7 separate regions of the Homo sapiens genome follow, and all the other regions are reported to be linked to region 5. The links are microRNA targets in miRTarBase. Many come from high-throughput screens and were not tested one by one. Region 5 holds a microRNA gene; each other region holds the end of a gene's coding sequence.

Region 1 (4,091 bases), not on the chromosome of region 5:
GCCGAGATCGTGCCACCGCACCCCAGCCTGGGTGACAGAGCAACACACCATCTCAAAAGAAAAAAAAAGGGATCACAGAGGAAACTGAGGCACAGGAAGGGCAGTGCCTGCCTCAAGGCACCTGGGAACCGGCCTCAGGTGGACCTTGTGTTTTCCATAGGAGGAGCAGAGACTGCTAGAAACTAGGAGTTCGAGTCTCTTCCACCATACACCTTTCTCAGCCCGAAAGGGCAGCACATTCCCACGATCAGGAGCCCCCAGAACACCGATTCTTAAACTTTAGCATGTGTAGAAATCCCTGGGAGAGCTTTTCACAACACAGATTCCTGCGCCCCATCCTCAGAGATTCTGATTTGGTAGGTCTGGGGTGGGGCCTGAGATGCTGCATATCTTTTTAAAAATTATTATCATTATTATTATTTGAGACAGAGTCTTGCTCCATCACCCACGCTGGAGTACAGTGGCGCAATCAAAACTCACTGCAGCCTCAACCTCCCAGGTTCAAACAGTCCTCCCACCTCAGTCTCCCAAGCAGCTCTGTCTACAGGCACAGTGCCACCACACCTGGCTAATGTTTAAATTTTTGGTAGATACAAGGTCTCACTATGTTGCCCAGGCTGGTCTTGAACTCCTAGCCTCAAGTGGTCCTCCTGCCTCGGCCTCCTAAAGTGCTGTAATTACAGGTGTGAACCACTGTGTCTGGCCAGATGCTGCATTTCTAATAAGCTTTGCTCCATGGACCACACTTGGATTACCACTGACTTAGAAACTCACAGTACCTTACCCACTGAGTCAGGATGAAGCTTGCTAAACTGTTGCAACAAGGGCCTAAACTGTTGCAACAAGGACAGAGCCAGGTGCCTCACGCCTGTAATCCCAACGCTTTGGGAGGCCAAGGCGGGTGGATCACATAAGACCAGGAGTTCGAGGCCAGCCTGGCCAACATGGTGAAACCCTATCTCTACTAAAAATACAAAAACTAGTTGCAGATGGCCTCCAGCCATCTGCAGCACATGATCTGGTGAAGGAGAGCTCTGATGAGCACGTGACGTAGTATGGTCCCGGCAGGTCTAGCCCAGGGTGGTGTGGGGGGAGTTGAACTTAGGTGACTCGCAGAAGACCCCCATGTGCCCAGGTGGAGCAGGGTAGCCATGTGCCCAGGTGGAGCAGGGTAGCTAAGTAACTGGACACTGCGGCTGGAAGCTCAGAGGCATCTAAGCAAATTGTATGATTTACCCGCGGTGTGACCTAGGACAAGTTACATAATGTCTCTGAGCCGAGGCTGCCTCTCTATCAACTGTGATCATAACACTGTGATTGTTTCTACAGGGAGCCCCCAGTAAATGGCAGGAATTCAGGTCACCATGAGGTGGACTCACGTTGATCTCAGACCAGATAGGGACATTAGTGGGTACAAATGGCCCTTGATGCTCAATTTTGTTGTCAGTTAAAAGAACCCTCTCAGCCAGTTTTTAATTCCCACTGAGCAAGTGAGATGGGTAAAGAAAACAACAGTGGCTCACACCTGTAACTCCAGCTCTTTGGGAGGCCAAGGTGGGAGGGCTATCTGTGCTCAGGAGTTCAAGACGGCCTGGGCAACATAGTGAGACCTCCTCTCTACAAAAAAATTAAAAATTAGCCAGGTGCGGTGGCACACACCTGTAGTCCCAGCTACTCAGAAGACTAGGGTGGGAAGATCACTTGAGTCCAGGAGTTCAAGGCCACAGTGAGCTATAATGGCACCACTGCACTCCAGCCTGGGCAACAGAGTGAGACTCTGTATCTAATAAAAGAAAAAATAGAGAAAAAGAAAAAGAAAACAAGCACCATTGGCTGGGAGTGGGCAAAGCAGACAGACCCCCAGCTCCCAGCATCCTCCACTGCAGGTGACCTCGAGAAGGGTCAGAGCAGGAAAATGGGGGCTGGGAGGTTCAACAGAAAGCTGTGTGGCAAGACCAGGGAAGCAGGTGTGGCAGCTGGCGTGAAGAGACAGGTCAGGAGTGCAGTCGCATCATTTAACGAGCATTTATTGCACACGTCTGTTCAAGCACCAGGCTCAGGCTGGAAACCATCCAAAGCGCAATCCCTGACCTCAGGCAGCTCACAGTCCAGTGGGGAAGCCGAGAAGCAAATTAATGACTCTGAAGAAGCGCAGGCAAGTGCTATGATCAAGGCATGTGTGTGGGTAGGGTGTCTGGGAACCCCAAAGTCAGCCTCAGGTGGGGAGGTAAGTCAAGGAAGGGTGAGGGGACTGGGCTCAGCCTGGGTCTCGGAGGAGAGCGGGGCCAGCCCCGGGGATGGTAGAGTCAACCTGCCAGGCACTGTGCACTGCTGGCCAGGCCCGGCCAATGAGAGCACAACTTGTTCAGGGTCCAGGAAGCAACCCCAGGAGAACAAAGCCTCGTGGGGAGGGAGGAACCTGGAGGGTGGAAGGAGTTTGGGCTTTTCCTGAAGGTGATGAGAGCCACTGAAGGATTCTGGGGGAGGAGACATAGGGTTATCCTGGGTCATGGGGGAGAGAGCTTTGAAAGGCAGGGAGGTGGGAGGCCGCAGGGACTCTCAGAAGTGGAGTCTCAGAGCTCCTTAAGAGGTGAAGGCAGCCGGGCGCGGTGGCTCACGCCTGTAATCCCAGCACTTTGAGAGGCCGACGCGGGCGGATCACAAAGTCAGGAGATCAAGACCATCCTGGCTGACATGGTGAAACCCTGTCTCTACTAAAAATACAAAAATTTAGCTGGGTGTGGTGGCGGGCGCCTATAGTCCCAGCTACTTGGGAGGCTGAGGCAGGAGAGTTGCTTGAACCCGGAAGGTGGAAAGGCGGAGGTTGCAGTGAGCCGAGATCACGCCACTGCATTCCAGCCTGGGTGACAGAGAAAGACTCCATCTCAAAAAAAAAAAAAAAAAAAAAAAGAGGTGAAGGCACAGGACAGGAGCTGGGATGTCACCAGCACCACTTGCCAGCTCACTTGTGCCTCATGCTCCCTGTTTCACAGATGTGGGAGGCAAAGGAGTCAAGGCCAGCTACACAGGGAGGCTGCACAGGCCCCCTGGCTTCCGGCTCCCACAGGTGTCTGCCCAGCCCAGATCTGCGCGGGTGGGAGGCACCTTGGTTAGGAAGGGCTGAGCCTCTTGCACTGATTTGCAAGCTTTCAACCTGGCCTCCAATCTCAAACTGGCCTCCAGGCCGTGGGCCTGATGGGGAGCTGCTGGCATTGCCGCAGGGCTCATCCCCACCAGCGGAGGAGATATTCGTAGCTGAGGAAGGTGACAGCATTGACGGGAAAGGCGCGGGCACTGTTGATGGTGACCCCCCGGAAGAAGACTCCCAGTCCTTCCTGCCGGATGCTGCTCACCATGCAGTCCAGCATCCCCTGGTACACTCTGCGTCTCAGTCCATCCATCTGCATCCGGGACTTGATCATGTCTAAGGGCGTGGCTGCCACCCAGGAAGCAATGCCTGCAAAGCCCCCTGCCACCAGCACCGTGGCTGAGCCTGGGGCAGAGAGAGCCCAGAGCAGGGGTCAGACCCAGAACAGAGCATCCTCCCCAGACCCTAGTTTCCTTCCCCAGTCCCCGCTGGACCCTGCCTGCTACCCACACCTCTGTCCCCCATCCTCTCACGCCACTTTACTTACTGGGATTCTGGCCTTCTGGTGTGTACTGGCGACAGAGCCCTTCATAGGTGATGAAGTAGATCCCCACCGTGGGGGTGTCCCTCAGCGTCAGGGCCCAGGCTCCTCGGAACAGCCCCCGGGGCCCCTCCTCCCGGAAGATGGAGGCTGCACAGTGCACGGGCCCCTGGTACCGGGGTGGGGGGCTCCCTGGCTGGGCCCTTGGCTCTGTCTGGTTTTGTAGCCGGACTTTGATGAGGTCAAAAGGAGCCAGACAGTAGGCCTGTTGGTGATGAAACATGAGGGCCCCGGGTGGGGCTTTGGGCTGGGAACTGGCCCCTTATATTCACAAGAGGAAGGAGGCAGGCAGGGGGCCACATCTTCCAGTCCCTCAGGAACCCTGCCGGCACCCAGCCTCTCACGTGCATGTGTGGCTGGGATGGCCAGGATGTCTGCATGCGACCGGGACAGGCCACCTCC
Region 2 (4,000 bases), not on the chromosome of region 5:
GAAGTCGAAACAGTTACATTCTTTCTACAGATTGTAGTATTTGATTATTTTAATAAATGTAGAATATTTGACTTTAAAATTTAAATTTCCCTCAACCTACCTTTATCAACCTATTAGTAGTAGTAATTAACTTACCTATTAACTAACCAATGGTTAATTTCTGTACCTTACTGTTTCACTCTGTTACATACATATTATTTTGCTAACAAGAAAACGTGTATTGTGAGCTGAATACTGGGTGAGGTCTGGTTAGCATCTGGTACACTTGGCAATTGGGAGACATTTATAAATACATTTTGCTTAGAATATGGTGAAGTGGGGGTAGGGATAAAACCTCTTATGGGAACTTTACCTATACACTTTACATTTGATATAATACATTTTTTGGGTGTTTATATTAAACTTTGCTTCTTTACAGATATGAGGAAAGCACTTTCCAGGGATACTGAGAAGAAATCCATCATACCATTACCTCATCCTGTGAGGCCTGAAGACATTGAATAACCCTGGGCAGTGGTTCTTAGGCAGATACTCTAGATGCTTTATGGACAATATTATTTTCATTGGATGATTCTGGAGCTCTATTAGGAGAAAAGTAATCATTTTAGGTCTTAAAGACTTCAAGAAAATACAGGTTATCAATTTATTTTAAATCTCATTGTTTCCAGTTAGCAATATCATACCTATTAAAGCTGTTCATTGTAACAAAATTCAATCAAAAAGGCAGCTAGGTCAGAAGGAAACATACCACTCTCATGGTTCATAGTATTCACTGTATGTATGCTAGGGAAAAGACTTGCTCCAGTCTCCTCCTCAGTTCTGTGCCTGAGAACCACTGCTGCATATATTTGTTTTTAAATTTTGTATTGAACTGTTAATTGAAGCTTTAAAAGCATATATGAAATGTATAAATCTAAGATGTATAATACATTATTGACTCTATGAATGTTTTCTGAAGTTTGTTAGTCATTTGTAAAACTAAATCAGATTGTAATCCCAGTACTTTGGGAGGCCAAGGCAGGCTGATTGCTTGAGGTCAGGAGTTTGAGACCAGCCTGGCCAAAATCTATACTAAAAAAAATACAAAAATTAGCTGGGCATCCCAGCTATGCAGAAGCTGAAGCACAAGAATTGCTTGAACCCTGGAGGTGGAGGTTGCAGTGAGCTGAGATCGTCCCACTGCACTCCAGCCCGGGCAACAGAGTAAGACCCTGCCTCAAGAAAAAAAAAAAAAAAAAAAATCAGGATTGTGAAAGGTCATCATCATTTAAGATACGTTTAATTAAATTGTGACTTCCATACGTAGTATTTTAAAAATGCACACTTGAAGCAATCACTGTCCAGCATACTTAAGAAGCTCCCTTCTTATCGTGTAGTAAATTCTTCCCAGTCACCTGCGTTCATACCATTATACTGTTTGTTTGTTAGTCCTAGATCTTTTCTCCTCTTCACAATGCTTTGCTTAAATCCTGCCCTTCTAAAAAGCCAAAAAAAAAAAAAAAAAACTTGAGGTTTTTTTTTTTTTTGGAGAGGGAAAAGAACATAATTCCTAAAGAAAGGCCATATAACTATATCATAGGCCAACCATGTATTTTATGTGTAGTGTCTTCCTCTGTAATATGTGAAAATATCCAGTTAGTTAGTTAGTGAAAGACTTAACGAAAGAAAAACCCACAAGAAATTATTAAACTTTTACTATCGAAAGGATTTACTTTGGTGGAGTTGAGGGTGGGAGAGAAATGAATCTTTATGTTCTCCTGTTAGAGAATAGCTTTTTTCCTTCCAGCTTTCACACTGGCACATGCTTATTACAATTCTACCTTGGGAACATGACAGAATTTTTTTCTTATGCATTCATGCAACATAAACAGATAATTCTAGGAAGACTGTGATTAAGTCACTTGCATTCTGACCTATTATTTTCATCTCTCCCTGACTCTGGGTGAGCCAAAGGCTATTAAGATGATGTTCTCCTGCTCACTCACTAGGCAGACCTCTACTCGAGAAGTGATCTGACACCGCAGTAGCTGATGCTCGTCCAGTGACTAAAGCAGTCAGGCTGAAAACAGATTTTATCTCAACAACAGTCCTAGTTTCTTCTGTCCTCAAACACTGTTATTTATTTTCAAGATAAAATTTAGTAACAACATTACGAAGTAGCTTTTATTCCCTTGGGTGAATAAGATGTGCACATTTAATAATAAATTTGCTTACTAAAGGTCCTTTTAGGGGAAAACAACCTTAAAAATACAGTTCTAGTCCTTGGGCAGTGAACAAAGAAAAAATGTGCTTGAGAAACACAGTCCAGGTTAAAGGAAAACTCTCAGATCGGTTAATGCAGTTGAATTTTTGCTTGAGAATGTGAGCAACGTATCAGCAAATACATTCATTCTTGTGCTACTCTTCATTATTTAGCATAGAGCTACCTTAGGTGTTTCTACACATGCTCTAAACCAAGAGTAAGTTTAACATGTCAGCAGTGAGGAGTAGACATTTTCTACTATAGCACACTGGGAGATGTTTACTGGTACTCTAGGTAGAAATGACTCCATTGTCCACTAAGTTTGGGAAATAAATAATATGGCAACATTGCTACTGGAGATACATAATGTACAGAAGCCTAACTATAAAGAGATTTGATTAACGAGACTTAAGTCTTAGTCCAGAATTTCCCAAATTTATGTGAACATGGGACATCATTTTTCATAGCACACACGTGAACAAGCCATTATTCTTTAAACAAGGTATTACAAACTCAACCACTCTGGAGAACTGATGAGCGCCTAACTGAAATTATTAGACTAAATTCTTAGTAAACAATGTTTTCTGAACCTTGTTCAGAAATATAATCACTGCAAATTATTTTCCAAGTGTTGTTCTAAAAAACAATATAACTGGACACTAGTAAGAAAGTAAGGTAAATTATTAATCCACTCGCATTCAATTCTACAAGGAATGAAACCATTTTTAAAAGTGGCTTAGAACAAACAATTTACTGAGCACTTACTATGCACCCACCAGGTATATTCCTTTTATAATGTAATCTTCAAAATGAGCTGTCAAACTATTGGCCCATTTTGTGAATGAGGAAAATGAAAATTAAGTTATATAATCATGAGTGGCAGAGCTGGGAAATGAACTCAAGTCTGTGACTCTGAAGACATGAAAAAGTTACACATTTCAGATGAATGCATAAACTATCTTTATGGGTATGACATGAAAAGTAACTGTAGAATGTTACCTTAATTACATTTCCTAATGCATGATGTGGACAGACATTAGAAAAGTTTGGACTCAGTTGGAAAAACAAATCCAGCAGTTAAAAAAGTCCTTTACTTGCAATCCCTACCCCTAGCTAACCCAAGAGCATTTAAAAAATAACTTAAAAAGTAGCCATCAAAGATACCAATCAATTTCTTACTGGTGAAATATATAAGAACTTCCAGGAGTCACAAGAGTTCCAAACAATTAATTTATAAAAATAACAAAACATTTGTCTATGAAAAAAAGATCAGGATTCACTCTCATCGACGTCCTCATCTGGATGGTGCTCAGCATCCTCCTTTTCCTGCTGCTGTTTCTTCCACAGTTTGGCCATGGCCAGGAGTTTGAGGTTAGGTTGGTTGGCAGCATCTTCTGGAAAGATGTAATCAAAGTATTCTTCCCAGCCTGCATCAGACTACAGAAATAAAAAATGAAAAGATAAGCAAACGTGGGTGATATACTCACATATCAGAGTGAAGAATTTTTACTGGAAATCCGGATGATTACCTCCATTTTACAAAATAACATCAAAGTCTACTACAGAAAGAACAAGGGCTGGGTCTGAAAGACTGGGAGTGAGTAAGCAGCAACTGTAGCTCAGTGAGAACTAAACTGGTAGAAAAACATTCTAAAAATCTAAGCACAGCTCCTCTATAGCCAACCAAGATGTTCAGTGTCTCCAACTACATTGTGCAGTCTTACACTTAAGAAAACGTTTAACGATCTTTACATAATA
Region 3 (4,091 bases), not on the chromosome of region 5:
ATGGGAGCTAGGTTGGGGTTCTGTCACCAGTGCTTTCATGTCCAACTGAGCTTGAGTCACATGGAGCAGAAAGCTGAAGCTACGTCTCTGGAAGTCCCAGCTAGTATTCTAACAGACCTATGTTCTCTCTAGAGAGGTCACTACTAATAGTGGTCTCAGAATTCATGAAAGGTTTGTTTTTACTACTACTAGATAGGGATATGATTGGCCTTGGCAGTAATCATAGATGTGTGACTTTAAACAGGTCAATTGGCCTCCCCGAGCCTCATCTATAAAATGAAGAGGCTGAATTGTATGAATCCTTGAAAGAGTGAGTACTTAGCACGTTTCCTGTTGCATAGTTGGTGTCCAAGTTAGTTTGCTCTGTATTAAACTATACTGAGGCTACAAAAATTCTGAGTTCTAATAATAATTCCTTTGGTTATTTGGTTTGGTTAATAATTTGGTTATTTCCAAAATAACCATCATTATATTCAATAAACCCATGTGTAACTGATTCTAAGTAGAAACCATAGCACTAAGATCCAGTCCTCAAGGATGTAACAATTCTATGTTAGGGGCAACATGATATACTCAACCATAATAAGGACGATTACTCTTTAGTTCCACAGAAGGACCAAATTCAATGGCAGTTCAGGAGGAAGAGAGTTTTTGGCTGCAAGGAAACTTGGAAGTGTTTATGGAAGAAAGAGCACTTGAGTCTTTTGGTTTTTTTTTTTTTTGAGATGGAGTCTCACTTTGTCACCCAGGCTGGAGTGCAGTGGCGAGATCTTGACTCACTGTAACCTCCACCTTCTGGGTTCAAGCGATACTCCTGCCTCAGCCTCCTGAGTAGCTGGGACTACAGGTGCGCACTACCATGCCCAGCTAATTTTTCTATTTTTAGTAGAGACGGGGTTTCATCATGTTGACCAGGATGGTCTTGATCTCTTGACCTCATGATCCGCCTGCCTCGGCCCCCCAAAGTGCTGGGATTACAGGCGTGAGCCACCACGCCTGGCCTTTTTTTTTTTTTTTTTGAGATGGAGTGTTGCTCTGTTGCCTAGGCTGGAGTGCAGTGGCACAATCTCAACTCACTGCAATCTCCGCCTCCTGGGTTCAAGCAATTCTCCTGCCTCAGACTCCCGAGTAGCTGGGATTACAAGCATGTGCTACCATGCCCAGCTAATTTTTGTATTTCTAGTAGAGACGGTGTTTCATCATCTTGGCCAGGCTGGTCTTGAACTCCTGACCTCGTGATCCACCCACCTCGGCCTCCCAAAGTGCTGGGATTACAGGTGTGAGCCACCACCCCAGGCCCACTTGACCTTTTTCTAAAATGCTAGACAGATGAGGTGTAGACAGATACAAACTGGATGAAGGTCCAGGACTAAAGACATTCCAGACTTGGGGAATGATGGATGGATGAGTGCAAAGTGGAGAATGTGAGCTGCCCAGCTGGACTGGAATGCAGATTGTTGGGAGATAAGGATGAAAATGTGGGCTCGGAGACCATACAAAACCTCTGAGCACTTTACTTTGGCTTTTATCCTGTAGGCAATAAGGAGTCATTAGCGCTGAAATGCAGCTAGCGCTATGTTGGGGCTGGATTAATCTCAAGATCACTGGGAAGGCAGCGGGGCAAACCAGAGGTGTGGCAATCAGCACAGAGGCTACTCTCACTTGTGTGGAGGCCATGGGACTAGAAAGCACTTGAATAGGTGTGGTTTCAATCAAACATGTTTTGGGGCTTTTAATAAGTGACATGTAAGTTGGTGACTTGCACAGTCACTTACTAAAGATGAGGAAAGGGAGTATATTTTAAAATGTTTAGTGGAAAGGAGCTCTTAGATTTAGGAGCAAGGCCTGTTATGGCTTTGGAGTACAAAGAAAAGTCATGGAGAATGTCATCACAGCCTTGTCTTAAGATGGTGCCACACTACAGCAGGCACAGGACAAAGAACTGAATTTGGATGACGGTGACAGCAATGACAAGAGAAAAGATGCAAGGCTGTGTGAGGGGAAAATCAACAGGAATTGGTCTAATTACATGCAAAGGGTAAAGGACTAGAAATCTGAGTCTTGAATGATGACAGCAGTAATGACTGGGAGTAAATTCGTAAATGTATTTTTTTTTGTAAACCAAGAATAATTTTGTTATTTAAAACAAATTCTGCCACAGCCAACTTCTATTTATAAGTACATTTCTAACATTTAGATATTACACATTCATTTTTAAGTATTAAGAAAATGAGGGCTTTTCAATTGAGGTGAAAGACTATCTTTGAGATAAAGTATCTCTATCTGGCAACGCTGTGGAATACTAACCAGTTGTTCTCACAAAATAACATGCAGGCAAAGCAATTCCAAAAGGCAGAAGTTCATTTCTACTAAATTAATACTATGTAAACATTAAAAACAAGTACAAAAATAAATATTAAATAAAAGTTTTGCTTTTATTTAAAATAAAATGCATTTATACAGTCTTTGAACCATGGATTATTGAACAATACTGGTAATCCACCTCTCCCTCGCACCCTTTTGGGCTATGTGAGCTAGGAATTTTCTGACTAGCACCAATACAGATTGTAACAGCGCAACAGACTAGAACATGGCCAGTCCAGGCATTAGAGTTAAGGACATTGTGGCAAATCATGATCATAATGAAGTCATTCTTAATTTAGTAGATATTAAAACTGCACGTTAATTATATCTCTTAAAGGCATTTAATTAACGCAGAGATTGCTACATTTAAGCCATCTGCTAGTTGTGAGTAGTTTTTAAAAAACTGTACAATTTTATAAAATTTGTGTTTTTACATTAGTTACACAAAATGCATACTTCATAGAACTTTACTTCATATTGTAATGCAAAGAGTTGCATATTTTAGGCAGACAGTGATTATGCTGGTGAATACTAAAAGTGTAATACAATATGGTGTAAAAATAAAAACACGAGACAATATACATAACATGCTTATTCAAGGACAAAAACAAATCAAGCACGACGGACTAATAGCATTTTCCTTCAAGGTCAAACACAATGACATTACTAAATATCAGGCCTCCTGCATGCCTGATTTATTTGGGGGTAGGGGGAGGAATTAAATGGCTACCAGAAGTAGGATATTTTAAAACATGATATCAAATTAAACATACATTAAATCACATGCATTAGACATGATAAATAGAGTTCATATAGGTTAAGCCCTGGATAGCTTTAAAATAGATGGCTTGTTTCTTACAGTTTGGCTAGCTTAAATCAGTAAATCAGTGATGGTTTGTTCCTGATTTGCCCACTATTTCAGTTTTCAATTCATGGCCCTAAGGAATGTGTGACAAATTCAAGTTTATTATATCATAACATGATAGATTAATAGTCGTGCTTGTTTAGTGCACATATTAACTGGTCTGGTAAGGCAAAGAAGTTTTCATGATAAAATGATAAATTTCAAGCTTACTTTATTAAGCAGCATATAACAAACAGCTTTTAAAGTTAAATATTGTTATGGCCGTGGAGTTTCATTAAACAGTATTCCTATTCACACCCAACCACTGGTAAGTTTGTAGAACATCTCTTCATCTAAACTCTCGTTTTGGTCTTTTGCACGTGTTGAGAGAAATATGTAGCCACCAATGAATTCATGAACCACTTTGCAATCTACTTCAGTACAAATGAAGGACAATCGTACTTCATCTGCAAACTCTACGGTGACCTGGAACAAAGACAAGAGCCATCAGTGCTGTCCCAAATGCTAGGTGGCTGGGTCCACACAAAACTACTGTGCTACTTAAAGTCTGTCATATCACAAAACACTTGTTGATCCTCAAATGATCAGTCTGTCTAAAACCTAAACGAATAATGCCTTTAAGTCCCAAAGAAGAAGCTAAGTTTATTGCCCTTCCCCTACACTTTAAGTTTTCATGTTCTGAAAAGGAAGACTAGGAATGCAAGGGTTTTAGGTCGTTCAGTTCTCAAATGGTCTCTGGTGATTGATTCAATTAATGAGAATGCCTCTCTTCAAGTCGTGCAGGAAAGCCTACTTCCTGTGTTTTAACGTTCGCTTCAGATACTTAAATTTTAGGTATCACGTTTGAGTATTTCAGAAATAT
Region 4 (4,091 bases), not on the chromosome of region 5:
TCAGATCCAGAAATTCGATGACCAAGGAGACAGCGAGGGCTCCGTGTACTTCTAAGTGCCCCTGCAGATGGGCAGAGGGATGCATGGGGATGCAGGTCCCTTGCATTTCTTGGTATCTCTCAGCTTTTCCTCTTGCAGCTCCCCCTACCAGGGGTCGCTTTCTCCTGGATTGCAAATGCCTCTTCAGTTTGGACTCAGCTCTGACAGCCCCTCCTCCAGGAAGGCCTTCCAGGACTTCCTCCTCTGGGTCCTCTAGCTCTGACCCTACAGGGACTCCAGATCTCAACCTGTTCCCTGGAAGTAGGGCCTGCTCTCCATCCCAGTGAAATAAACATGTATTAGACACCTACTGAGTATAATTACTTAACACTTCTGATTTCACTCAGTTGTCACACACACAAAAAGTTGTTTTTTGTTTTTGTTTTTGTTTGAGACTGTGTCTCACTCTGTCGCCCAGGCTGGAGTGCAGTGGCACGATCTTGGCTCACTGCAACCTCCGCCTCCCCGGTTCAAGTGATTCTCCTGCCTCAGCCTCCCAAGTAGCTGGGATTACAGACACCTGCCACCATGCCCAACTAATTTTCATATTTTTAGTAGAGACGGGGTTTCACCATGTTGGCCAGGCTGGACTGGAACTCCTGACCTCAAGTGATCCGCCCACCTCAGCCTCCAAAAGTGCTGGGGTTACAGGCATGAGCCACCACGTCCAGCTGGATTCTTCACTCTCTGTGTCTCCCTGGGCACTTCAGGACAGCAACTGACCCCAGTGTGTGGGCACGGTCCATATGCATGGCCTAGGGGGAGGCTCTTCCAGTGTCTGACCCATCCCAGGCCCTAGCTGTGATGGGTGGGGCACAGGTGGGGCCAGTCTCCCTGTGGGAGCCATGTAACAGCAGACCAGAAGCTGTCCTCTGAGTTTCAGTCTCCCAAGGGAGCCACAGGGGCAAGAAGCAACCAGGAAGACCAACTACATGCAGGGGAGACAGCGTCAACCACTGGGCCACCACGATTGTCCTCAAGAAGGCCCTAGTCTGGGGAAGATAGCCCTGAGTCCAGTAAAAGAAGGCTGCACAGCAGAGTCTTAATAGCCAGGGAGGCTCAAGATCTCTTCCCGCAGGAAGGGCCATGTGGGTAGGGTTTTGTAGGAAAAGTAGGAGTTCAGCAGTCAGGCCTTGGACAGACATCCAGATCTCTGGCCTGGGGCCAAACAGCAGGACAGACACCATGGTCTCACTCAACCCTCAGATGTCCTGTGCATTGGATAAATGAGACCTTGCTGTCCAGTTTGACTGGAGTAGACATGGACCCACTCACTCACAGGACACCATGGAGAGACCCTGACCTAATGCAAAACCCAGTGCAGCCTTCAACGAGAACCTGGTGTCCTCTCCATCCCGCCCCTGCCTCAGTTCCCTTCTGGGAACGTGCCCACAAGAAACCCTCACTGACTCCACAGGAGGGGCCTAATCTCTCGTCTTCCAAGGCTTTCTTCAAGATGGACATGGGGAGACTAGGGAGCATTTTGGCAAACTGGGGCTGCTTAAGAGCTGAGCACTGGCCCAGCAGGCAGCGTGACAGACTTGACTTCTTCCCTTGCTGTTTTCAGGAGGGCATCTTTCTTTTTTTTTTTTTTTTCAGACAGTCTTCCTCTGTTGCCCAGAGTGGAGTGTAGTGGTGCGATCTCAGCTCACTGCAACCTCCGCCTTCCAGGTTCAAGTGATTCTCGTGCCTGAGTCTCCCGAGTAGCTGGGATTACAGGCTCCTGCCACCACGCCTGGCTACAGAAGGACATCAGTGAGAGGTGCCACCCCCACCACCATTCGGGCCCTTTCTCTCTGCCCTACAGCTCTGGTGCTGAATTCCACAGGTGCCTTTCCCACCACAGAGCTGTGCCACACACTCCCGAGGCTGGGACGGGAGAGTCCCTGGTACCCCACATGATTCCGTATCAACCCAGTGAAGCCCACATTTCAAAGTCTTGGCCTTGTAGGTGCCTGACTCCCAAACGTCAATCTCTGAAACAGATTTTTAGTTCCATGTGAGAAAAAAAACTGAAGTCAGATTGACTCAGGCACAAAAGGGGGGAGACTGAGTTCACAGAACTTAAAACACCCAAGGGTTTCAGGTATGGCTTGATCTGGGGCTCCAAAGGCATCTTGGGAAATTGATCTTCCATCCTTGGCTCTGCTTTAATTAGATTCTCCCAGTTCCAAATCCCACCGTGCAATCTCACTGGCTAGTTTGGCATCCCAGGGCCTCCATAAACCAGTTGCTGTGGCCCAGGGAATGGTGGTCTCTGATTGGCTCGCCTTACATCATGTGACAGGACTGGCCCCAGAGGTTTCTCCCAAGGACATTGGAGCCCAAACAAGATTAAGGGCCCGGCAGCTCATGCCTATAATCACACCACTTTGGGAGGCCAAGGCAGGTGGATCACCTGTCAGGAGTTCGAGACCAGCCTGGCCAACATGGCAAAACCCCTCTAGTTAAGGTACAAAAATCAGCTGAACGTGGTGGTGCGCACCTGTAATCCCAACTACTCAGGAGGCTGAGGCAGGAGAATTGCTCCAACTCGGGAGGCAGAGGTTGCACTGAGCCAAGATTGCACCACTGCACTCCAGCCCAGGTGAAACAGCGAAACTCCATCTCAAAAAAAAAAAAAAAAAAAAAAAAAAAGATTAAGGTTGACCAAAAGAAAGTAAGTGAGGCTAGGCACAGTGGCTCACGCTTGTAATCCACTTTTGGAGGCCTCAGGTGCATCACCTGAGGTCAGGAGTTCGAGACCAACCTGGTCAACATGGTGAAACCCCATCTCTACCAAAAATAAAATTAGCTGGGCATCGTGGTGGGTGCCTGTAGTTCCAGCTACTGGGGAGGCTGAGGCAGGAGAATCGCTTGAACCTGTGAGGCAGAGGTTACAGTGAGCCAAGATCACGCCACTGCACTCCAGCCTGGGTGACGAAGTAGGACTCCGTCTCAAAAATAAAAAATAAAAATAAAGACCAGGGAGGCTGTGCAGGTAGGAAATGTCTTTATTATTGGCCTTGAGTCATCATGTAGTGTCTGACATAGGTTACGTGTCCAGAGGATCTGCCTGGCACACGCTAGCTACCCCTGCCCACTGGAGCAGCCCCTCTGGCCGACGCCAGGCCTTTGTCCATCATGCCAGGGAAGCCAACCCCACCATCCCACAAGTTCATGCTAGGGGTGCTGAGGAACAAGGCTGTCCTAGGATTGGACCCTCCATCCTGGACAGGGGTCCTGGGGAGGATGAGGCTGAGGCCTGGATGATCAGTCTCTTTTTGGTTTCATGATCATTTAAAAAACAGAAAAGACAAACATTTCACAGTCTTTAAAAAATAGAAGTCTGAGGAGAGAAGCCAGAGTCCTGGGCCCCGGGAGGCCCCTCGAGGCCTCAGCATTCCCTGTCCCTTGAGGTCTGTCTGCAGGCCTGGCCACAGCACACGTGGCCCCGTCATGGTCACTGGCCCGAGCCGTAGGGCCAGTTGAAGGTACTCCCCGACAGCAGCATGTCTCTGATCAGTGTCTCAATGGGCGTCTTCCCCACCAGGCGCATGAAGAACAGCTGGGAGATGAGGGAGGCAGGGACCGCGCGCAGGGCGGGGAGCCGCAGCAGCAGGCGCCCGAAGCGCTGGGGCTGGGACGGGTACTGCGCCCGCACATACTCGGTGAGGGCCACCTGCGCCTTCTCCTGCAGGCTCTCAACGTGGGCCGGGTCTGAGAGGCCACAGGCGTCTAGGGGGACAAAGGCAAGTCAGACAGGTGGGAGGCAGCTAGAGAACACAGAGCCCACAGGGGTGACTAGGGGACACCACTCGCCACTGTGGGTAAGAACAGGGGGCCGGGCATGATGGCTCACGGCCACAGTCCCAGCACTTTGGGAGGCCAAGGCAGAAGCATCATTTAAGGCCAGGATTTGAGACCAGCCAGGGCAACATAGTATGATCCCTTCTCTGCAAAAACAAATCAGCTGGGGCTGGGCACAGTAGCTCACGCCTGTAATCCCAGCACTTTGGGAGGCTGAGGCAGGTGGATCACTTGAGGTCAGGAGTTCAAGACCAGCCTGGCCA
Region 5 (4,091 bases):
CCCAGGTGGCCAGGGCTGCGAAGGCATCACCCCCCTCCACGATGCCCTCAACTGTGGCCACTTCGAGGTGGCTGAGCTGCTGCTTGAACGGGGGGCGTCCGTCACCCTCCGCACTCGAAAGGTGAGCCTGGTGGGGCAGAGGGCAAGGGCGAGGTTATGGGGGCTGCTGTGCCCCTGCTCAACTGATGCCACACAGGGCCTCAGCCCGCTGGAGACGCTGCAGCAGTGGGTGAAGCTGTACCGCAGGGACCTGGACCTGGAGACGCGGCAGAAGGCCAGGGCCATGGAGATGCTGCTCCAGGCGGCTGCCTCGGGCCAAGGCAAGCAGGGCGTCCCTTGTCCCTGGGGTTGCTGTGCCTACGCTGAGAGTCCCCGGGCCCTGATTTCGGGAGATGCTCCATCACAGGTGGAGCGGGAGGTGCCGGGCCCCTGCCTCAACACGCATTCTCTCTCCCACAGATCCCCACAGCTCCCAGGCCTTCCACACCCCAAGCAGCCTTCTGTTTGACCCCGAGACCTCTCCTCCTTTGAGCCCCTGCCCAGAACCCCCCTCTAATAGCACTAGACTCCCAGAGGCCTCTCAGGCCCATGTCAGGGTCTCCCCAGGGCAGGCGGCACCAGCCATGGCCAGGCCTCGGAGGAGCAGGCATGGGCCAGCCAGCAGCAGCAGCAGCTCAGAAGGCGAGGACAGCGCAGGCCCCGCACGGCCGTCCCAGAAGAGGCCTCGGTGCTCGGCCACAGCACAACGGGTGGCAGCCTGGACGCCTGGCCCCGCCAGCAACAGGGAAGCAGCCACAGCCAGCACCAGCCGGGCAGCCTACCAGGCAGCCATCCGGGGTGTGGGCAGTGCTCAGAGCCGGCTGGGGCCTGGCCCACCGCGGGGCCACAGCAAAGCCCTTGCCCCCCAGGCAGCGCTCATCCCGGAGGAGGAGTGCCTGGCCGGGGACTGGCTGGAGCTGGACATGCCCCTGACCCGCAGCCGCCGGCCCCGCCCCCGGGGCACTGGAGACAACCGCAGGCCCAGTAGTACCTCTGGGTCGGACAGTGAGGAGAGCAGGCCCCGTGCCCGAGCCAAGCAGGTCCGCCTGACCTGCATGCAGAGTTGCAGTGCGCCAGTTAACGCAGGGCCCAGCAGCCTGGCTTCAGAACCTCCAGGGAGCCCCAGCACCCCCAGGGTCTCAGAGCCCAGTGGGGACAGCTCTGCGGCAGGCCAGCCCTTGGTGGGTATGCAGACCTGGAGCAGAGCCCTCTCCCCACTCCGGGCAGGCAGGTGTAGGGTGGAGCCCACTGTGGCTCCTGACTCAGCCCTGCTGCCTTCACCTGCCAGGGTCCGGCCCCGCCCCCTCCCATCCGGGTTCGAGTTCAAGTTCAGGATCATCTCTTCCTCATCCCTGTCCCACACAGGTGAGGCATCGCCTGCCCTACCCCGCAGCCCACCTGTGCAGCTCCATGCCAGGGTGCTCGTGTTTGCATGTCAGGGTGGGGCGTGTGACGAGGGCTCCCTGGTGTGTTCCAGGAGGATCCTGTGGCCCCCAGGAATAGCAGAGGGGCTGGTGGTGTGCTGGGCTGCAGGGAGAGGAGGGGCCGGCTACCTGGGAATGGGAGAAGCAGCTGAGGGGGCTTCTGGCCCTGGGCAGGGATGGCGGGTCCCTGGGGCATTACCCCGGCTGTGTGCAGGCAGCAGCAGCAGCGCCTCTGTCCCTGCAGCAGTGACACCCACTCTGTGGCCTGGCTGGCCGAGCAGGCGGCCCAGCGCTACTACCAGACCTGCGGGCTGCTGCCCAGGCTCACCCTACGGAAAGAGGGGGCCCTGCTGGCCCCACAGGACCTCATCCCTGATGTGCTGCAGAGCAATGACGAGGTGAGCCGCAGAGCGGAGGGGGAGCCAGGGCCTCAGGCACCGGGAGCCCCCGGGTGGCTCATGGCTGCAGAGCAATGATGAGGTGAGCCGGGGGAGCCCCCAGGTGGCTCATGACGGTGCCTTCCAGGTGTTGGCTGAGGTGACTTCGTGGGACCTGCCCCCGTTGACTGACCGCTACCGCAGGGCCTGCCAGAGCCTGGGGCAAGGTGAGGGCCAGGAGAGCTGCAGTTTCTGGGTGAGGTCGTACAAGGGGGTTGGGCACACAGGCTCCACCAGCCCGGTTCATTCCTGGGCCTCGGGTGTTTTGGGGTGCACCTCCCCCAGCCTGGTGGGTGCTGTGTCCTGCACTTGGATGTGTGGGTGGAAGGGAGAGGACAGCCCTCAGCCCCCATGATCTGCTGACAGGGAGATGGCAAAAAGCAGCCGAAAGCCTGGAAAGTCAAACCCAAGGAGGAGGGCCTGGCATGGGCTGGGAGCTGCTGGGGAAGCTTCCCAGAAAGCTTGTCCCGGGGGGTGTGGAATCTGGCAGTGACTGGTGGAGCTCAGGGTGCTGCAGACCCACCCCGGCCCCCAGGGCCTCACAGTGCTAGACCCACAGGCATGTGCGAGTGGGCTCTACAGCAAGTCTGGTGGGTGACCCCTGGGGCTGTTGAAAAGGGGCTGCCTGGTTTGCCCTCTGGGATTCAGAGGGCAGAAAGGGCCGGCCTTACCCTGGTGACATCACATCCCTCCCGCAGGGGAGCACCAACAGGTGCTGCAGGCCGTGGAGCTCCAGGGCTTGGGCCTCTCGTTCAGCGCCTGCTCCCTGGCCCTGGACCAGGCCCAGCTTACACCCCTGCTGCGGGCCCTCAAGCTGCACACAGCACTCCGGGAGCTGCGCCTGGCAGGGAACCGGCTGGGGGACAAGTGTGTGGCTGAGCTGGTGGCTGCCCTGGGCACCATGCCCAGCCTGGCCCTCCTTGACCTCTCCTCCAATCACCTGGGTCCCGAAGGCCTGCGCCAGCTTGCCATGGGGCTCCCAGGCCAAGCCACCTTGCAGGTATAGGCACAGAGAGCAGCAGGCCCTCAACAGCGGGGAGTTGGGGTTCCCATTCTGCAGGTCCCTGGGTGGTCTAGGGTAGTTGGGAGAGCCAGCCAGTGCCCGGCTGTAATAGGCTATGCCAGGCAAGGTGGGGAAGAGACTGCCAAGCCAAGCCCCAAGGGGGACCCTGTCCGTGGGACTGCTGGGGGCTCACTGCCAGCCTGTGTCTTCCACAGAGTTTGGAGGAGCTGGACTTAAGCATGAACCCCCTGGGGGACGGCTGTGGCCAGTCCCTGGCCTCCCTCCTGCACGCCTGCCCCTTACTCAGCACCCTGCGCCTGCAGGCGTGTGGCTTCGGCCCCAGCTTCTTTCTGAGCCACCAGACAGCACTGGGTAGTGCTTTCCAAGGTGAGCTGACCAGGCACTCCCTGTCCACTCCCTAGCCCTGGGGCATTGAGGGTTTCCAGGACTTTCAGAGGGGGCCCAGGCTGGGCACACAGGGGCAACACCTGTGGTCCCAGCTACTTGAGAGGCTGAGGCGGGAGTATCGCTTGAGCCAAGAGTTCCAGGAAAGCCTGGCCCACATAGTGAGACCCCATCCCTTAAGAAAAAAGCGTCTAGGCCGGGCGCAGTGGCTCACGCCTGTAATCCCAGCACTTTGGGAGGCCAAGGCGGGCAGATCACGAGGTCAGGATATCGAGACCATCCTGGCTAACACGGTGAAACGCCGTCTCTATTAAAAATACAATTAGCTGGGCGTGGTGGCCGGTGCCTGTAGTCCCAGCTACGCAGGAGGCTGAGGCAGGAGAATGGCATGAACCCGGGAAGCGGAGCTTGCAGTGAGCCGAGATCGCGCCGTTGCACTCCAGCCTGGGCGACAGAGCAAGACTCCGTGTCAAAAAAACGAAACAAACAACGTCTAGGGGCCTGGGATGCCAGACCTGGCTCTCCGGGAGGGCCTGGCACCTGGGAGCAATAGATGGATGTGTGGGTACAGGGTCTGCCTCCGAGGGGCGTCTGGTGCCCACCCAGCCAGGCTGACCCCCGCAGGACACACCGAGAGCAGAGTCCGGGCAGCTAGTGTCCTGTGGTCCCCATCCCGTGCTCGCCAGCTGAGTGCTGTTCGCCTGAGGCAGTTCCACTGTGAGCCCACTCAGGCTGCAGAGACTGGGGTCCCAGTGCCAAGAGGCTGGGAATTGGGTGTCATCC
Region 6 (4,091 bases), not on the chromosome of region 5:
GTTAAGGTGAATCTCGTTTACTTTTTATTTTTTGAGACAGGTTCTCTGTAACCTGGGCTGGAGTGTGGTGGTGTGATCTTGGCTCACTGCAACCTCCTCCTCCCGGGCTTAAGCGATCCTCTAACCTCAGCCTCTTGAGTAACCGGGACTACAGGTGTAGGCCACCAAACCTGGCTAATTTTTAGTTTAGTTTTTTTTTTTTTTTTTTTTTTGGCAGAAACAGGGTCTCCCTATATTCCCCAGGCTGGTCTTGAATTCCTGAGTGTAAGCGATTCTCCCATACTGGCCTCCCAAACAGGCATGAGCCACCACACCCAGCCTGAATCTCTTCCATTATAGGACTTTGCAGTTTCTACCTTGTTTTGATTGCTCTGCAGAGCCACCCAATCATTGCTTTCTATATTTTGTTAAGCGTTTATAATTGTTACTAAGAGTCCAATACACACAACTCCTTCATTATCAGACTCCAACCCCTAAAATATCAAAAAGTTTTAAAGTAAAAAAGTAAAGACAAAATAAAGTTTATCATTTATTTCCAATACATTAGGATAAAAACCCACTTTATGCAACTGTACCCTTTAATTCATTTCTTCTGAAGAAAAGTACAAAAGACCAGACTAAAATTGAGACAAGCATTTAAAGGAAAATCCTTTGACTCAGAGTCCAAAACCGAACTGTAAATGGTTCATTTTACCAAAAGAATTAGTTTTTGTACAAAATATAAAGAATTCTACACTATAAACAAAGACGGCTGTATATGTAATTAAATTAGAATTCTAGTATCTGCTTTTCCTCTAATTCTTCTGGAGTACAAACATATTTGCAAGTCAGAAATCTAATATTCTCAATGGACAGACTGTCTTAGAATAAGCTTTTACCCTTAAGATATCTGGAAAGATAGTACTCATTCTTTCCCTTGGCTCAAAGTCCAATATATCAGTAAGTTTTAATTTAGTTTACAAAACTCTGCCATATTAACATGAAGAGCACACTAATGCTTAATGTTTAAGCATTATCTTTTAGGAAGTAATACAACACAGAGCTCAACACCGAATCTAAAAGGTCACAATCTAAGTCATTATTAATTCAGAAAACTTCAGCAACTTCTATCTTTATTGAAAAAGACCAAACCAATCCCTTATCTCCTACTATATCATTACTCTATTTTCATGGCCCTTCTATCAAAGAAACAGCTTAAAATAAAACTTGGTTAGAGTTAAGTCATAGAAAATAGTTCTCTAGCACTAGCTGAAGTTCAGACTTGATCAGGAAAGCAACTTCTATACAGTAATGATTTTCTGACTCAGTGTTTAAGATAGTATTAACCTGACTTTTATCTCTTTTAACATTTGAAATCTTTGTTATCTAAAAGTCTTTCCCAATAGAATTATAACCATGATAGTTTTAAAGGAGACAATATATTAAAAGTTGAGCTGGAACCACATAGTCCTTTAATATGATTAGCCAGTTATCCAAGTATCAATAACGTTAATCTTTTAAATGAAAACAATGAAATTTTATGAGCTTAACTGAAATGTCTTAATTTAGAACTTCTCAATTCTTTTCATCATATATATTTCATTACTACCTTTCGTTATCAGTATTTCATAATTGATGTTGTAATGTTTGAGACCTTAAAGGGATACTACCCATCACCTAACATATGCATAGCTCTGGCTTGAAAAAAATTTTTTTTCCCCTATTTATCTCAACTCTCATTTTTATTATTCAGGGAGTTCCAAAGTCATGATTGGAAGAGACATGATTTACCTTATGGCTACAAACAGCATATGATCCTAAGAAATCATGCATCTTCTGGCTGGGCGCAGTGGCTTATGCCTGTAATCCCAGCACTTTGGGAGGCCGAGGCAGGCGGATCACCTGAGGTCAGGAGTTCAAGACCAGCCTGACCAACATGGAGAAACCCCATCTCTACTAAAAATACAAAATTAGCTGGGGTAGTGGCGCATGCCTGTAATCCCAGCTACTCGGGAGGCTGAGGCAGGAGAATTGCTTGAACCTGGGAGGCGGAGGTTGTGGTGAGTCGAGATTGCGCCATTGCACTCCAGCCTGGGCAACAAGAGCGAAACTCTGTCTCAAAAAAAAAAAAAAACCCAGAAATCATGCATCTTCTATATTCAAACAAATCTTTAACAAGAGCAAGAGTAAAATTAAGAAGAATGTATGTCTTCATTATAAAGTTCTTACCTAGTAGGGGCAAGTTTTTTATTTTAATGTATTCTTTCAAAACCTAAGAAATCTTTCCTAAATGAAAAATTCTTGTTACTACTACAAATATTCTTTCCACTCATGACATTTTACATAGCATCATTTAAGCACCAGAGAAAAGTTCTGTAAACAAACTTTTAACCAGTAAACTAAGGGCAAATATCTATTTGCCTTTATTACAATATTTAAAAGGCCATGATATGAGTCTCTACTCCCTACAATGACATTTTTATAATGAAAATCCAGGCATATTTATACAAACAAATGGAATTACTGTACATTTTGGGAGAACAAAAGGCAGATCAACAGACTAGAACTAGAACTTTTGAGTTAATAAAGCAAGCAGAAGGAACTAGAAAAATGTATGCCATGTATAAAAATTCAGTTTTTTTAAAGTTTCATTGAAGGGATTAATAATTATTAAGAATAAAAGATGGTAGTTCCACTTGCTTATAATTATCCTGTAAAATTAAGAAAGTAATAAGCAATAAATTAGAAATGTCTTAGTTCCTAGTATTTCCCTTCTCTTGCACTGGAAACATTTTCACAGCAGTTAAAATTGGCTCTCTTAAATATCAGAATAATTCTTGCAGAAAATAAATTCCATCAGGAAGAAGTTAACAGTCTACAACAGATTTCTGACAAATACATTAGAAAAAAAAATACTGCAGGTCACATGAAGACTGATCTACATGTTATATGACAGAGTAACTCAAACCTTCAAACCTTCTCTATTTTACCATATTTGCTTTTTTGCTATTATATTGCTATCTAAACTGTTTGGTAGCAAGGTAATAGAAAAATAAAAGGTAAAAAGAACACAACAATTGTTTAATGTCTGTAGATTTATGAAGAAGAAACTCTCAAAATAAACTTTTTCCTATTACAGTTACTTAGGAAAAAAGTTTCATTTGGCACACTGAATTTATAAAACGAAAAAAGAAAATAAACTTAAGAGTGTTTGGCATTCCAATCACCTGTAGTTAAGACAACAGTAGAAAAGAAAAGTAGGAGAAATTACTATTTTAAGAAAAAACATCAGAAGACAAACAAACAAATGTTCTTGTGTCTTCTACCATTCACTGTTCCTGGAATACTTTCATCTGCAACACAATATACAAATTATTATTTACATTATGATTATATTGGTAAAGAAGACCAGAATCAGGTTTTGTTGTGCTCTAACTTAGTGTCCATTGGGATAACTGTGACCATCAAGGCAAGGCCTTAAACAACAAAAAATTACATTTGCATTGTATATTTTGTTTAAGTCTGTTTTCTGGTTCATCTTCAAGTTTGGTGCACAAATATGTAAGACTCTAAAAAGTCCTGTAAACTTAGGCTGTTTCTGTAGCCGATGACGTTCATTGAAGATCTTGTGTTTCCTCTTTTAAGTAAAATGTTCTGCAGGTTTACAAAGGTATTTCCTTAAACAGTGGTATCTCCAAAGTCCTTGTTCCAACGTATGTACGCTTCTAAAGTTTGAGGGCTGACGCTGCGTTTTATTTTTTTCAAGGATTCAGTGAAGTCAGATAATCGAATATTTCTCATCTAGATTTTTAAAAAGCACATGACAATACAAATGATCAACAGGTATATGGTGGTTAACGAAATGATGGATTAAAGTAATGATGCTGCTGTTTCTTAATGTTATAAAAAATATACGTGTATGTATTCTTAGAAAATTATGTCAGCCATTTAAATATATTTTCTATGTTGATCTGCTACACAAGAAACCTTAATAAATGCTATACTAATATATTTATTACTTGTGTTTAGTTTCATAGGTATTAACATTTGAAAGCATAATATTTTTCCAATATAAAAACAAAACACAATCATTTATAGAAAAGTTCAAAAAT
Region 7 (4,000 bases), not on the chromosome of region 5:
TAAGAGTGAAACTCTATCTCAAAAATTAAAAAAAAAAAAAAGAATAAAAGGCTTCTGCACAGCAAACATTCCACAAAGTGAAGAGACAACACACAGGATGGGAGAAAATATCTGCAAACTAACCATCTGACAAGGAATCAATAATCAGAAGATAAGAGTTCTAACAACTCTATAGGATAAAATATAATAATCCAATCAAAAAGTGGGCAAAATATTTGAATTAACATTTCTCAAAAGACATACAAATGGCAAGCAGGCATATGAAAAGGTGCTCAGCATCATTGATCATCAGAAAAATGCAAATCAAAACTACAGTGAGGCTGGGTGCAGTGGCTCATGCCTGTAATCCCAGCACTTTGGGAGGCCGAGGCGGGCAGATCACTTGAGGCCAGGAGTTCAAGATCAGCCTGGCCAACATGGCGAAACCCCATCTCTACTAAAAATATAAAAATTAGTTGGGTGTGGTGGCGCATGCTTGTAATCCCAGCTACTTGAGTGGCTGAGGCAGGAGAATCTCTTGAACCCGGGAGACGGAGGTTGCAGTGAGCTGAAATCACACCACTGCCCTCCAGCCTGGACAACAGAAGCAAAACTCCATCTCAAAAAAAACCAAAAATAGGCCGGGCATGGTGGCTCACGCCTGTAATCCCAACACTTTGGGAGGCCGAGGCGGGTGGATCGTGAGGTCAGGAGATTGAGACCATCATGGCTAACATGGTGAAACCCCGTCTCTACTAAAAATACAAAAAAAAATTAGCTGGGTGTGGTGGTGGGCACCTGTAGTCCCAGCTACTCGGGAGGCTGAGGCAGGAGAATGGCATGAACCTGGGAGGCAGAGCTTGCAGTGAGCCGAGATCATACCACTGCACTCCAGCCTGGGTGACAGAGTGAGACTCCATCTCAAAAAAGAAAACCAAAAACCAAAAATAAACTATAATGAGATACCATCTCAGCTCTATTAAAATGGCTTATTATTATTTTTTGAGATGGAGTCTCACTCTGTTGCCCAGGCTGGAGTGCAATGGCATGATCTCAGCTCACTGCAACCTCCGTCTCCTGGATCCAAGCGATTCTCCTGCCTCAGCCTCCTGAGTAGATGGGATTACAGGCACTCGCTACCATGCCCAGCTAGTTTTTGTATTTTTAGTAGAGATGGGGTTTCCCTAGGTTGGTCAGGCTGGTCTTGAACTCCTGACCTCTGGTGATCCACCCACCTCGGTCTCCCAAAGTGCCGGGATTACAGGTGTGAGCCATGGTGCCCGGCCTTAAAATGGCTTTTATCCAAAGGACAGGCAATAACAAATGGTGGACAGGCAATAACAAATGGTGGCGAGGATGTGAAGAAAAGGGAACCCTCATATACTTTTGATGGGAATGTAAATCAGTACAACCACTATGGAAAACAGTTTGGAGGCTCCTCTAAAAACTGAAAAGTTGAGGTTCCACATGATCCAGCAATCCCACTGCTGGGTATATCCCCAAAAAAAGGAAATCAGTGTATGGAACAGGTATCTGCACTCCTGTTTGTTGCAGCACAGTTCACATTGCCAAAACTTAGAACCAACCTGTGTCCATCAGCAGATGACCAGGCAAAGAAAATGTGGTACTTACACACAATGGATACTCTTCAGCCATAAAAAAGAATGAGATCCTGGCTGGGCGCGGTGGCTCACACCTCTAATCCCAGCACTTTGGGAGGCCGAGGCGGGCAGATCACTTGAGGCCAGAAGTTCAAGACCAGCCTGGCCAACGTGGTGAAACCTTGTCTCTACTAAAAATGAAAAAATGAGCTGGGTGTGGTGGCGCGTGCCTGTAATCACAACTACTTGGGAGGCTGAGGCAGGAGAATCGCTTGAATCCGGGAGGCGGAGGTTGCAGTGAGCCAAGATTGTGCCACTGCACTCCAGCCTGGGCGACAGAGCGAGACCCTTTTCAAAACAAAACAAAACAAAACAAAAAAAACATGAGATCCTGTCAATTACAACATAATGAACTGGGGATTATTATGTTAAGTGAAATAAGCCAGGCACAGAAAGACAAACATTGCATGTTCTTATTTATTTGTGTATCTAAAAATCAAAACAATTGAACTCATGGAGATAAGAGTGGATGGATAGTTCCTGGAGGCTGGGGAGGGTAGTTAGGGGCTGGCAGGGAGATGGGGAAGGTTAATGGGTACCACACACACACACACACACACACACACACACAAAGAAAGAATGAATAAGACATACTATTTGATAACACAACCAGGTGACTATAGTCAATAATAATGGTACATTTTAAAATAACTTGGCAGGGTGCGGTGGCTCACACCTGTTATCCTAGCACTTTGGGAGGTCAAGGCAGGTGGATCACGAGGTCAGGAGTTCGAGACCAGCCTGGCCAATATGGTGAAACCCCTGTCTCTACTAAAAATACAAAAATTAGCCGGGTATAGTGGTGGGCACCTTTAGGCCCAGCTACTCGGGAGGCTGAGGCAGGAGAATCGTTGGAACCCAGGAGGCGGAGGTTGCAGTGAGCCAAGATCACACCACTGCACTCCAGCCTGGGTGACACCAGGAGACTGTCTCAAAAAAATAATAATAACTTAGCCAGGCGCAGTGGCTCACACCTATAATCCCAGCACTGGGAGGCTGAGGCAGGCGCATCAGGAGGTCAGGAGATCGAGACCATCCTGGCTAACGTGGTGAAACCCCATCTCTACTAAAAAAAAATACAAAAAATTAGCTGGGCAGGGGCCTGTAGTCCCAGCTACTCAGGAGGCTGAGGCAGGAGAATGGCGTGAACCCGGGAGGCGGAGCTTGCAGTGAGCCGAGATTGCGCCACTGCACTCCAACCTGGGCGACAGAGCGAGACTCCATCTCAAAAAAAAAAAAAATAATAATAATAATAATAACTTAAAAAGATTGTAACTGGATTGTTTGTAACTCAATGGATAAATGCTTGAGGGTATAGGGGAAAATAAAGAACCAAAACCCCACTCTAGATTTACCCAGGAAACAGCTCCTTTAATGACTGGTTCCTCATTTTTTTCTCCCTCCCATCCAGGCCCGGAGGCTGTTTGATGTCCTGCACGAGCCCTTCTTGAAAGTACCCTGATGACCCCAGCTGCCAAGGAAACCCCCAGTGTAATAATAAATCGTCCTCCCAGGCCAGGCTCCTGCTGGCTGCGCTGGTGCAGTCTCTGGGGAGGGATTCTGGGGGTGTCACCTTCTGGTGGCCCAGGTGGGCACCTTCAGCTTTCTTTAGTTCCTCAGTTTCCCGGGGGCAGACTACACAGGCTGCTGCTGCTGCTGCTTCCGCTTCTTGTCCCGGCCTGTGGGAGCCTCCTCCCCAGACTCTGAATTCAGTGGCGGCCCTGGCATCTCCTCTTGGGGCACTGTCTCTGGCATCCGGCTTTCCTGACTCTGCTTCTTCCTCTTCTTGGTGGATCCCGGAGTTGCCCTGGCTTCAGGCTGTCCCTCCCCTGGCAGTTCAGGCTCTAGTGGCTGAATTGGCTCAGTCACTGTGTGACCTCTCTCTTTCTTCTTCTTCTTCTTCTTGGTGGATGTGGGAGCTGCCTGAGGCTCAAGGTCATCCGGCAGCTCAGGCCCCACCACCTCTGTCTCTGGCTCCACTGTGGCATCTTGCTGTTTTTCTTTCTTCGTCTTCTTTTTGGGAGCTGCCAGAGCTGCCTGGGCCTGAGGCTTCGCTCCTTCTGGCTGTTGAGGCGCCATGGTCCCCCCTGGGGACTCCAGAGGCTTCATCTCCGGCTCCACTGGCTCCATCGCCTCCGTCCCTGGCTCCATCATTGCCATCTGTCCCTTTTCTTTTTTCCTCTTCTTCGTAGGGGGCAGAGGGATGGCTTCCTCCAGTGGCTCCACCTTCACCTGTGGCTGAGACTCAACTGTCACCCCCTCCTCTGGCTCCATCCCTTCCGTCCCCTTTTGCCTCTTTCTCTTTTTGGTCGGGGACAGGACTGTGTCTTCTAGAGGCTCAGTGTTAATCTGTTCCTGCT

What was found. The annotated mature microRNA hsa-miR-6893-5p reads CAGGCAGGUGUAGGGUGGAGC and lies in region 5 at 1,264-1,284, shown strand. An mRNA with a match to its seed (bases 2 to 7 or 8) in the 3' UTR can be bound and repressed. Matches are read on the target gene's strand: a 7mer-m8 pairs with bases 2 to 8, a 7mer-A1 pairs with bases 2 to 7 and ends in A, and an 8mer does both.
Region 1: miRTarBase lists SLC25A45 as a target of hsa-miR-6893-5p. Seed matches in the 3' UTR shown: 7mer-m8 at 2,782-2,788 and 7mer-m8 at 2,530-2,536.
Region 2: miRTarBase lists NAA20 as a target of hsa-miR-6893-5p. The part of its 3' UTR that is shown has no 7-base or 8-base seed match.
Region 3: miRTarBase lists FERMT2 as a target of hsa-miR-6893-5p. Seed matches in the 3' UTR shown: 7mer-A1 at 2,867-2,873.
Region 4: the mRNA of NR2F6 is a reported target of hsa-miR-6893-5p. The part of its 3' UTR that is shown has no 7-base or 8-base seed match.
Region 6: miRTarBase lists SPAST as a target of hsa-miR-6893-5p. Seed matches in the 3' UTR shown: 7mer-m8 at 2,000-2,006 and 7mer-m8 at 1,867-1,873.
Region 7: the mRNA of POLR1G is a reported target of hsa-miR-6893-5p. Seed matches in the 3' UTR shown: 7mer-m8 at 2,770-2,776, 7mer-m8 at 2,640-2,646, 7mer-m8 at 2,478-2,484 and 7mer-m8 at 2,344-2,350.

Annotation. Positions count from the first base shown.
Region 1 is chr11:65,373,183-65,377,273 of GRCh38, forward strand. It overlaps SLC25A45 (solute carrier family 25 member 45), which reads right to left. Exons shown (of 7, transcript NM_182556.4): 6 at 3,636-3,894; 7 at 2,010-3,493. The coding sequence ends at 3,225. It also overlaps a transcript of FRMD8 not described here. Among named protein-coding and RNA genes, the nearest start is that of SLC25A45, 7.4 kb to the right of the region's middle. RefSeq lists an enhancer at 3,443-3,943.
Region 2 is chr20:20,032,684-20,036,683 of GRCh38, forward strand. NAA20 (N-alpha-acetyltransferase 20, NatB catalytic subunit) reads left to right here. Exons shown (of 6, transcript NM_016100.5): 6 at 419-972. The coding sequence ends at 504. It overlaps CRNKL1 (crooked neck pre-mRNA splicing factor 1), which reads right to left. Exons shown (of 14, transcript NM_001278628.2): 14 at 1,685-3,679. The coding sequence ends at 3,512. Among named protein-coding and RNA genes, the nearest start is that of NAA20, 17 kb to the left of the region's middle.
Region 3 is chr14:52,854,857-52,858,947 of GRCh38, forward strand. FERMT2 (FERM domain containing kindlin 2) reads right to left here. Exons shown (of 15, transcript NM_006832.3): 15 at 2,417-3,694. The coding sequence ends at 3,521. The region is part of intron 1 of LOC105370500 (a long non-coding RNA gene); the gene reads left to right. Among named protein-coding and RNA genes, the nearest start is that of GNPNAT1, 65 kb to the left of the region's middle.
Region 4 is chr19:17,228,871-17,232,961 of GRCh38, forward strand. NR2F6 (nuclear receptor subfamily 2 group F member 6) reads right to left here. Exons shown (of 4, transcript NM_005234.4): 4 at 3,013-3,756. The coding sequence ends at 3,482. It overlaps OCEL1 (occludin/ELL domain containing 1), which reads left to right. Exons shown (of 6, transcript NM_024578.3): 6 at 1-349. The coding sequence ends at 55. Among named protein-coding and RNA genes, the nearest start is that of OCEL1, 4.7 kb to the left of the region's middle.
Region 5 is chr8:144,432,787-144,436,877 of GRCh38, reverse strand. MIR6893 (microRNA 6893) reads left to right here and starts at 1,259; the gene lies at 1,259-1,327. It overlaps TONSL (tonsoku like, DNA repair protein), which reads left to right. Exons shown (of 26, transcript NM_013432.5): 15 at 1-121; 16 at 197-320; 17 at 460-1,220; 18 at 1,328-1,404; 19 at 1,708-1,861; 20 at 1,989-2,067; 21 at 2,599-2,900; 22 at 3,119-3,290. TONSL-AS1 (TONSL antisense RNA 1) reads right to left here and starts at 1,710. Exons shown (of 6, transcript NR_109770.1): 1 at 1,438-1,710; 2 at 1-127.
Region 6 is chr2:32,154,063-32,158,153 of GRCh38, reverse strand. SPAST (spastin) reads right to left here. Exons shown (of 17, transcript NM_014946.4): 17 at 517-3,780. The coding sequence ends at 3,658. Among named protein-coding and RNA genes, the nearest start is that of SLC30A6-DT, 9.6 kb to the left of the region's middle.
Region 7 is chr19:45,408,777-45,412,776 of GRCh38, reverse strand. POLR1G (RNA polymerase I subunit G) reads right to left here. Exons shown (of 3, transcript NM_012099.3): 3 at 2,040-4,000. The coding sequence ends at 3,276. ERCC1 (ERCC excision repair 1, endonuclease non-catalytic subunit) reads left to right here. Exons shown (of 10, transcript NM_001983.4): 10 at 3,052-4,000. The coding sequence ends at 3,102. Among named protein-coding and RNA genes, the nearest start is that of POLR1G, 4.1 kb to the right of the region's middle.